Linked DNA regions of Homo sapiens. The protein of the gene in region 1 purifies or fractionates together with the protein of each later gene. This does not show direct contact. Each region holds a gene or a part of one and is shown on either strand. Other genes may lie near its edges.

Region 1 (4,566 bases):
TGAGGAGAGTTGATGATGCCAAGTACTGTGGTGGTCCTGAACAATTAAAGAGGGATTCTGGGAAGCAGAGTGTGGACAGTTCCAACTCCCTGCCAAGGGGAAGCTCATAGGCAAAGGAAGCTCACTCCAGAGGGGATATGGAAGTTCCATACCCTCTTTTGTCTGAAGAGCCGAAGTCCCTGTTCTCAGGTCGTTAGGAAGTTAAAAAGTAATTTGGAGGTTATCAGAACTGATTGAATTGAGTTTGAACCTCACCTATAGCAACAATGGGCCAGGCTGCTTGACTAATGCCTTGGCGTCAATGGTACAGTTTTCTCCCTCTTGAGCTGCTGGCAGGGACCTGGGCTGACATGTCTCAGAAGGCCCTTAGTCAATGATTAGCTTATCTCAAGGCCCCAAGCCAGGGCAGCTGTCAAAGAGGGTCCCCACTGCGTTCTGCACCTAGATCCTCATTGTGAAATGAAGTATGAAGTGATTGAGTGAGGTCTCTATTGTCTCTGACATTTTACAATTCCAGGATTCTGCCTTCTTGTCAGAGAAGTGTATAGGCAAGCAGTTGGGCAGGTGAGAGGGCTCCGGGTGAGAGGCTCAGAGACTGAGGGCTCAGCCTCTGCTTGAAGAGTCATCATCTGGGAGGCTCTGTGGCCTCCTCAGATGAGTTCATTCACACTCATACCCCAAGATGGAGTCAACACCCCCTCCACCATCTCAGCCTTCTCAGCATCTAAAGCCCCAGCATCAATGCCTCTTTTTTTGGGTTAGGGGTCAGAGCTGTTGTGGAAGGGCATACAGTCATTCTTCACTTGCCTTTGACTGTGTACTCTGTGCACATGGAGGTAGGAGCAGACATGACTTCAACAAGGTCATGCCCCCTTGGCAAGCATCTTTGAGACCAGAGAGGAAGACAGACTAGGGAAAGAATGAGGAGATAAGCACGGGCTGCTGTGAGGTCCAGGGGAGCAGGCAAAGGTAAGAGAAAAGGCTTTAGGATACTAACTAACATATATGGAGCACTAGCATGAGCCAGGCACTATTCTAAGTGCTTTTCAGGTGTTATCTCTTTTTGCCTCACAACAGCACCTACAAGGCACTGTAATTATCCCTACTTCACAGATGAGGGAGTGGAGCCACAGTGAGGTTAACTTACTTGACCAAGGGGGCCAAGTAGGAATGGAGGCATTTGTTGAGTCTTCTAAAGATGAGGAAAGAGTGGAAGTGAGATTTTGTAAGTGCTTGATTCATTTCTACCAACTGAACTGGCAAATAAATAAAAGCATGAGTAAATGGGGGTATAAATAGTCTGTCAGCTATGGGGGTGGGAGTGGGCTCAAGGCAGGCTTAGAGAGAAGGTGCAAGAGCTGTCTGAAAAGGTCAGAGCAAAGCATGAAGCTGGTGAGCAGCTGTGACCATAGCTGGAAGCTTCTCTCTGAGCTTTCTCCTGGTTACCTCCTCCTCCCCTACGTGACCAGTCAGCCAAGTGTTAAGTCCAGGGGAACATTTTGCTGCTTCCAAGTACTGTCTCACTAGTGTTATTTGCCATAACTTGCGGCCACAGGGCAAGGTCCAGGTGCTCAGACCTTTACATCCTGGACTTTCCAAGGCCTCCCAAAGCTCTCTGGCACCCAGGGAACAGTGTGCGTGTCGAGAGCTTAATCCGCAGGAGCATAGCCATGGTTCTCTGGGGTCCAGTGCTGGGAGCTCTGCTGGTGGTCATTGCTGGATACCTGTGCCTGCCAGGGATGCTCCGACAACGCAGGCCATGGGAGCCCCCTCTGGACAAGGGTACCGTGCCCTGGCTTGGCCATGCCATGGCTTTCCGGAAGAATATGTTTGAATTTCTGAAGCGCATGAGGACCAAGCATGGGGATGTGTTCACAGTGCAGCTAGGGGGCCAGTACTTCACCTTCGTCATGGACCCCCTCTCCTTTGGCTCCATCCTCAAGGACACACAGAGAAAACTAGACTTTGGGCAATATGCAAAAAAACTGGTGCTGAAGGTATTTGGATACCGTTCAGTGCAAGGGGACCATGAGATGATACACTCAGCCAGCACCAAGCATCTGAGGGGGGATGGCTTGAAGGATCTTAATGAGACCATGCTGGACAGCCTGTCCTTTGTAATGCTGACGTCCAAAGGCTGGAGTCTGGATGCCAGTTGCTGGCATGAGGACAGCCTCTTTCGCTTCTGCTATTACATCTTGTTCACAGCTGGCTACCTGAGCTTGTTCGGCTACACGAAGGACAAGGAGCAGGACCTGCTACAGGCAGGAGAGTTATTCATGGAGTTCCGCAAGTTTGACCTTCTTTTCCCAAGGTTTGTCTACTCCCTGCTGTGGCCCCGGGAGTGGCTAGAAGTGGGCCGACTCCAGCGTCTCTTTCACAAGATGCTCTCCGTGAGCCACAGCCAGGAGAAGGAGGGCATCAGCAACTGGCTGGGCAACATGCTTCAGTTTCTGAGGGAGCAGGGGGTACCCTCAGCTATGCAGGACAAGTTCAACTTCATGATGCTCTGGGCCTCCCAGGGGAACACGGGGCCTACCTCTTTCTGGGCCCTCTTGTACCTCCTGAAGCACCCAGAAGCTATTCGGGCTGTGAGGGAGGAAGCTACCCAGGTCCTGGGTGAGGCCAGGCTGGAGACCAAGCAGTCCTTTGCCTTCAAACTCGGTGCCCTGCAACACACCCCAGTTCTAGACAGCGTGGTGGAGGAGACGCTGCGGCTGAGGGCTGCACCCACCCTCCTCAGGTTGGTTCATGAAGACTATACCCTGAAGATGTCCAGTGGGCAGGAGTATCTGTTCCGCCATGGAGACATCCTGGCCCTCTTTCCCTACCTCTCAGTGCACATGGACCCTGACATCCACCCTGAGCCCACCGTCTTCAAGTACGATCGCTTCCTCAACCCTAATGGCAGCCGGAAAGTGGACTTCTTCAAGACAGGCAAGAAGATCCACCACTACACCATGCCCTGGGGTTCGGGCGTTTCCATCTGCCCTGGGAGGTTCTTTGCACTCAGTGAGGTGAAGCTCTTTATCCTGCTTATGGTCACACACTTTGACTTAGAGTTGGTGGACCCTGACACACCACTACCCCATGTTGACCCGCAGCGCTGGGGTTTTGGCACCATGCAGCCCAGCCACGATGTGCGCTTCCGCTACCGCCTGCATCCTACAGAGTGAGCTTGGCCAAGCCAGCTGCAAACCTGGCCAGAGGAGTTCTATTGCATCTCTCACCTGTTCTCACCCCTCTGCAGCCCCAAGACCCCACTGGCCACCCCTCCCTCTGGTCCTGTGGCACCCCCTACCTCTGTTCTGCCTGTCCTCGCTCTCTCCCCGCCTAGTCATCTGACAGGCTTATCATTCTCTTTAAAATACCATCTCTCAGAGTGGGTTCTGCCGAACCCTCCTCTCACAGGAAGTCCAGAGGAAGGGGGAGTATCTGTGGGCAACTTGGTTTGGGAGATGATGCCTGCCTTGAGAAGTCCTGAGTACAGAGACTGGTTCCCCCCAGACACGAGTAACATGGCATCTTGCAAACATCAGCCTCCACTCTCCCAGCTTGCTTTAGTTTTTTCAGCAACACTTATCCCACATCCTATGGAATTCAGGTTCTAGAACAGTGTCATCCAACATAAATATGAAGCAAGCTACATGAGTAGTGGGGTTTTTTGGTTTTGTTTGTTTGTTTTGAGACAGAGTCTTGCTCTGTCGCCGAGGCTGCAGTGCAGCGGTGCGATCTCTGCTCACTGCAACCTCTGCCTCCTGGGTTTAAGCAATTCTCCTGCCTCAGCCTCCCCAGTAGCTGGGATTACAGGCACCTACCACCTTGCCCAGCTAATTTAGTTTCCTGGTAAACACATTTTTAAAAAGTAAAATGAAACAATTCATTTTTATAATATACTTTACTTAATCCAATATATCCAAAATATTGGCATTTCAACGTGATCACTATTAAAAATTTTAACGTAATAGTTTTTACCTTCCCTTTTTCATCCTGTCTTCAAAGTCTGGTATGTACTGTACTTTTGCAGTTCTTCCCAGTTCAGACTAGCCACATTCCAAGTGCTTAATTGCCGTGTGTGGCAGGTGGCTGCCCTATTGGATAGCACAGGTCTAGAGAAATGATACCTTTTTTTTTTTTTGAGACAGAGTCTCACTCTGTTGCCCAGGCTGCAGTGCAGTGGTGTGATCTTGGCTCACTACAACCTCTGCCTCCCGGGTTCAAGTAATTCTCCTGCCTCAGGCTTCTGAGTAGCTGGGATTATAGGTGCGCACCACCACACCCGGCTAGTTTCTGTATTTTTAGTAGAGACGGCGTTTCACCATTTTGGCCGGCCTCCTCGGCCTCCCAAAGTTCTGGGATTACAGGCATGAGCCACTGTGCCCAGTCAGGATGTCTTTAATGTAGGAATCATTCAAGATCCCTCCTCAGTGCCCATGTCTCCCCCACCTCAGGGTGCTGTCAACCCTCCCTTGGTTTCCATGATCATTGCTGAACTCAGAGCTTTCTTCTATCCCCAGACCCACATGGGAGTCTCCCAGCACCTCTGACTCAGCTTGGCCAATGCAG
Region 2 (3,813 bases), on another chromosome or scaffold:
ACGTAACAAGGAAGATACTGGTTTAAGGTTATGTTCCTGCTTCTTATTGAGAGGTAGTTCTGTAGTCTTTATTATATTGGTCAGTGGTTGGGAAGGCAGTTGATGCAAAAAGAATAATGACCTATTGGTAAGGCAGTCCTCTTATATCTGATCCATAGTTTCCTCATGTCCATTTTGGTGAAAATAAAAACTAAATAGCCAAATGTGTTTTAAAAAAATGTGTTTTAGGGCCCTGTGTGGTGGCTCATGCCTGTTCCCACCACTCTGGGAGGCCAAGGTAGGTGGATCACTTGAGTCCAGGAGTTCCAAGACTAGTGGGGCAACATGGTGAAACCCTGTCTCTCCGAAAAATACAAAAATTAGCTGGACGTGATGGCATGCACCTATAGTCCTAGCTACTTGGGAGGTTGAGGTGGGAGGATCACCTGAACCCGAGAGGTCAAGGCTGCAGTGAGCCATGATTGTGCTGCTGTGCTCCAGCTTGGGTGACAGAGACCTTGTCAGTCAATCAGTCAATAATGTGTTTTAATAGTTTGGCATGGTAATAATTTGCTTGCAGTCAAATTTCTAAATGACTTTACTGTCCACTGCTGGAAATCACTGGGAATGAGTGTAAACATGTCAAATGCAGCCCTGTGTTTAAAAAGTAGTAATAAAATTTAAACTTCCGAAAATAAGCTGCATACAAGTTTATTTTGCTGCATTATGAATATGTTCTCTAGTGAGCAAAAATCAACTTGTTTTGACAGATGGCAGAGTGAGAAAATGACTGGATTGACCATAGTCTGTTTGAGTCAGTAATGTTGGTAAACATCTTTGTGAAATAGAAATGAACTAAAGAACTTGAACTAGTTTGAGGAAGATAATGGTAGGCCTAAGATTTATTCCAGGCCTTTAAATTTAGGTTTTTGTTTTGTTTTAAATAGCTGTGATCTGGGAAATGCAAATCAAAAGCACAATATGATACCACCTTACTCCTGTAAGAATGGCCGTAATCAAAAAATTAAAAAAAAAAATAGATGTTGTCAGGGATGTGGTGAAAAGGGAACACTTGTACACTGCTGGTGGGAATGTAAACTAGTACAACCACTATAGAAAACAGCGTGGAGATTCCTTAAAGAACTAAAAGTAGAACTATCATTTGATCCAGCAATCCCATTACTGGGTATCTACCCAGAGGAAAATAAGTCATTAAAAACAAACAAACAAACAAATAAATAAATAGCTATGATCAGATAAAATGAAAGGTTTAACTTACACTTGAAAAAACAAGGGCATTTAGCCTTAAGCTTGGAATTTCCTTTTCCCAGACAGAGATTTTAAGAGTTAATCTAATTTTGCTAGGTGAGGAGGGTTTTGGAACATTTCATGGTAAGAGGATATCCCCAAATAAGGCCTGTCAGTCCTCTGAATGCTCTTGCAAACCAGACACACATTGGAATAGACTAATGGTGGTTTTAGCTGTATCAATTTGAGGTTCAGATGTTTCTAAATGATTAATGATTTTTTTAAAAATAGACACTACTTATATGAGTAAGTGAAGCATGTTTTATATTGTTTCTTAACTAGGTGCATTTTAGGGAGTATTAGAGGAAGTAAGCTCTTGACTAAGGTACTGGTTTTATTGCTATTTACAGTTAAACTCTCTAGTGACATTTATAATAACACAGTCCTTTAATTATGGGGCGTAGTTGTCAACTCAATCATGTACTGTTTTGGCTAATGGGCTACATGAAGTGTTCTAGTGGTGCCAATAATGAATGCAGAATCAATTTAATGCTCTGTCACTTTTCTCTTTTTCCTCCCCTAATATCTTAAAGTGTCCTTATCCAATCTCATTAGAATAGCCTTATGTTTTTAAAAAAATTCCTAACAGTGTTTTTGCATTTCTATCTTTGAAGCTTAGATGGCAGGAGGGAAGGCTTGTAAAATGTCAGCCCCCAGTCCCCCTCCTCCACTCCCCATTTGTGTTGGTTTCTTAGGACCTCTTGCTAAGTAGTGAGGAAGATAAACCCCTGCCTATACTGTGAATGCTCGTGGGATTAGTCTTAATTGAAAGATAGCCCAAATAGGTGAATACAGAAAGAGAAAGGGATACTTGACAAAATGGTCTCCATTTGCCCAGGACCCTGTCATGCAGCCCTGTCCTTGTTAAATGGGGACATATATAATTTAGTAAGCACTTTAAAAATACTCACTGCTTGCCTTTTAATAAGCACAAAGATGGTAGTTTGTTTCTGTTATGATTTACTAACTATTGGAGATTTCTTATCAGATAACCTTTCTCTAAAGATGTCATAACTTAGTTATCTTGAATTATAATCTTCAATTATCTGTAGAGACCAATGAGACACCAGTTGGTATGCTTTGCCAGAGTGGACTTTTAAATCATGTTGACATGTGCTGTGTCCTCTGTTACTTTGTCTTGGCTTTAATTACAGTTTTGTCTATTATGTCTAATTACTACTCTATTCAGATATCATTTTTGGGAGAACACTAGCTCTTATGACTCTGATAGAGATTTCTGTAAGTTTTTGTAAATTCAGATGTGTGCGACACTGCATTGAGAAGGGTAATTTATTTGGCAAACTTTAATTTCAATCCTGGATCATTTTACAGCAATGATCAGAATTGTGTTAACAATAGGTATATATAGTGCAGTTAGTTCAGTTAGGCCTGCCGTGTGTACTGTGTGCAGGTATTCTGTATTAGGATGTTAATCATGGAGAAAATATCAATTTAATGTAAAAGGTCATTTCTTTTCAGGATTGGCCATTTGATGATGGAGCTCCACCCCCTAATCAGATAGTAGATGATTGGTTAAACCTGTTAAAAACCAAATTTCGTGAAGAGCCAGGTTGCTGTGTTGCAGTGCATTGTGTTGCAGGATTGGGAAGGTAAACTCTTACCTTTATTACCCTTTTTGTCTGAATTCATTACCATGCCTAAGTTAGTTGAAAGTTTCACTTTGGTAGACATTTGCATATATTATACTAAATAACATTAAATTACCTGAAAGGAAAGGAAATGAGAGGAAAAACTAGTGTAATGATTTCTCAAAAGAGCCTGTTCATTTCATCTGGTTGTCTGATTCTGATGCCAGCCTGGATTGTGGGTGTTTTATTTTTCTCCCTATTTCAAGTAATCAAAAGTTCAGGTCACTGAAATTGGCAACAAAATTAAAATAATTTTAGAGTTTGATGAATCTATACATGGTTAATTTTGGACTGAGATGAATGGGAAGTTAATAGATAGCAGATATCTGAACTTTAAACTCTTGAAAGAAGATGTATGGACAAGAATTGACTTTGATCTTAAAACCTTTTCCCCTGAGCATTGCTTAGAATGGTGTTGCAACGCTGTCATCAGCAGCAGATTAAATGCCAATTTAGGATGCACACTTTGACTCAAAACATTAGTGTAGGCTGCCATTGCCTCAAGGTGGTGATTACTCAAGCTGTTAGTTCTGCTCTGCCCTTTTGTTTGCTATTTCCTTTTTTGTAGTGTGGTACTGTTTGTTCATAAGGTTAGAAGTTTTAGTCCTTATCCTGAAGGTTGAAGATAATGTTGTAACGTGAGTTGGCAGTTTTATAACTAGTAGCTATCCTAGTTTTAGGTAGCCCAAAATTGGTGCCCTGTAATGGGCTTTATAAAAACATCATTTCCTTTGTTAAATTTTTTTAAAAAGATAGAACTTCTTCTAGTCATCAATTCTTGGGCATTTTCCTAGCTCATCAAAAGGATTTTCTTGAAAACGTCTAGCACCTTTTTAGCATTTGATAAGGAAATATTAAAATCAATTGGTAATGAAAA

What was found.
Region 2: the proteins of CYP8B1 (region 1) and PTP4A2 purify together in Homo sapiens (affinity purification with mass spectrometry; one large-scale study listed by BioGRID and IntAct). This does not show direct contact.

The regions. Positions count from the first base shown.
Region 1 is NC_000003.12:42,872,921-42,877,486, reverse strand, and holds the start of CYP8B1 (7-alpha-hydroxycholest-4-en-3-one 12-alpha-hydroxylase), read left to right. Parts: upstream 1-1,607; 5' UTR 1,608-1,670; coding exon 1,671-3,176; 3' UTR 3,177-4,566. UniProt on the Homo sapiens protein: A cytochrome P450 monooxygenase involved in primary bile acid biosynthesis. Catalyzes the 12alpha-hydroxylation of 7alpha-hydroxy-4-cholesten-3-one, an intermediate metabolite in cholic acid biosynthesis.
Region 2 is NC_000001.11:31,910,780-31,914,592, reverse strand, and holds part of PTP4A2 (protein tyrosine phosphatase type IVA 2), read left to right. Parts: intron 1-2,766; coding exon 2,767-2,897; intron 2,898-3,813.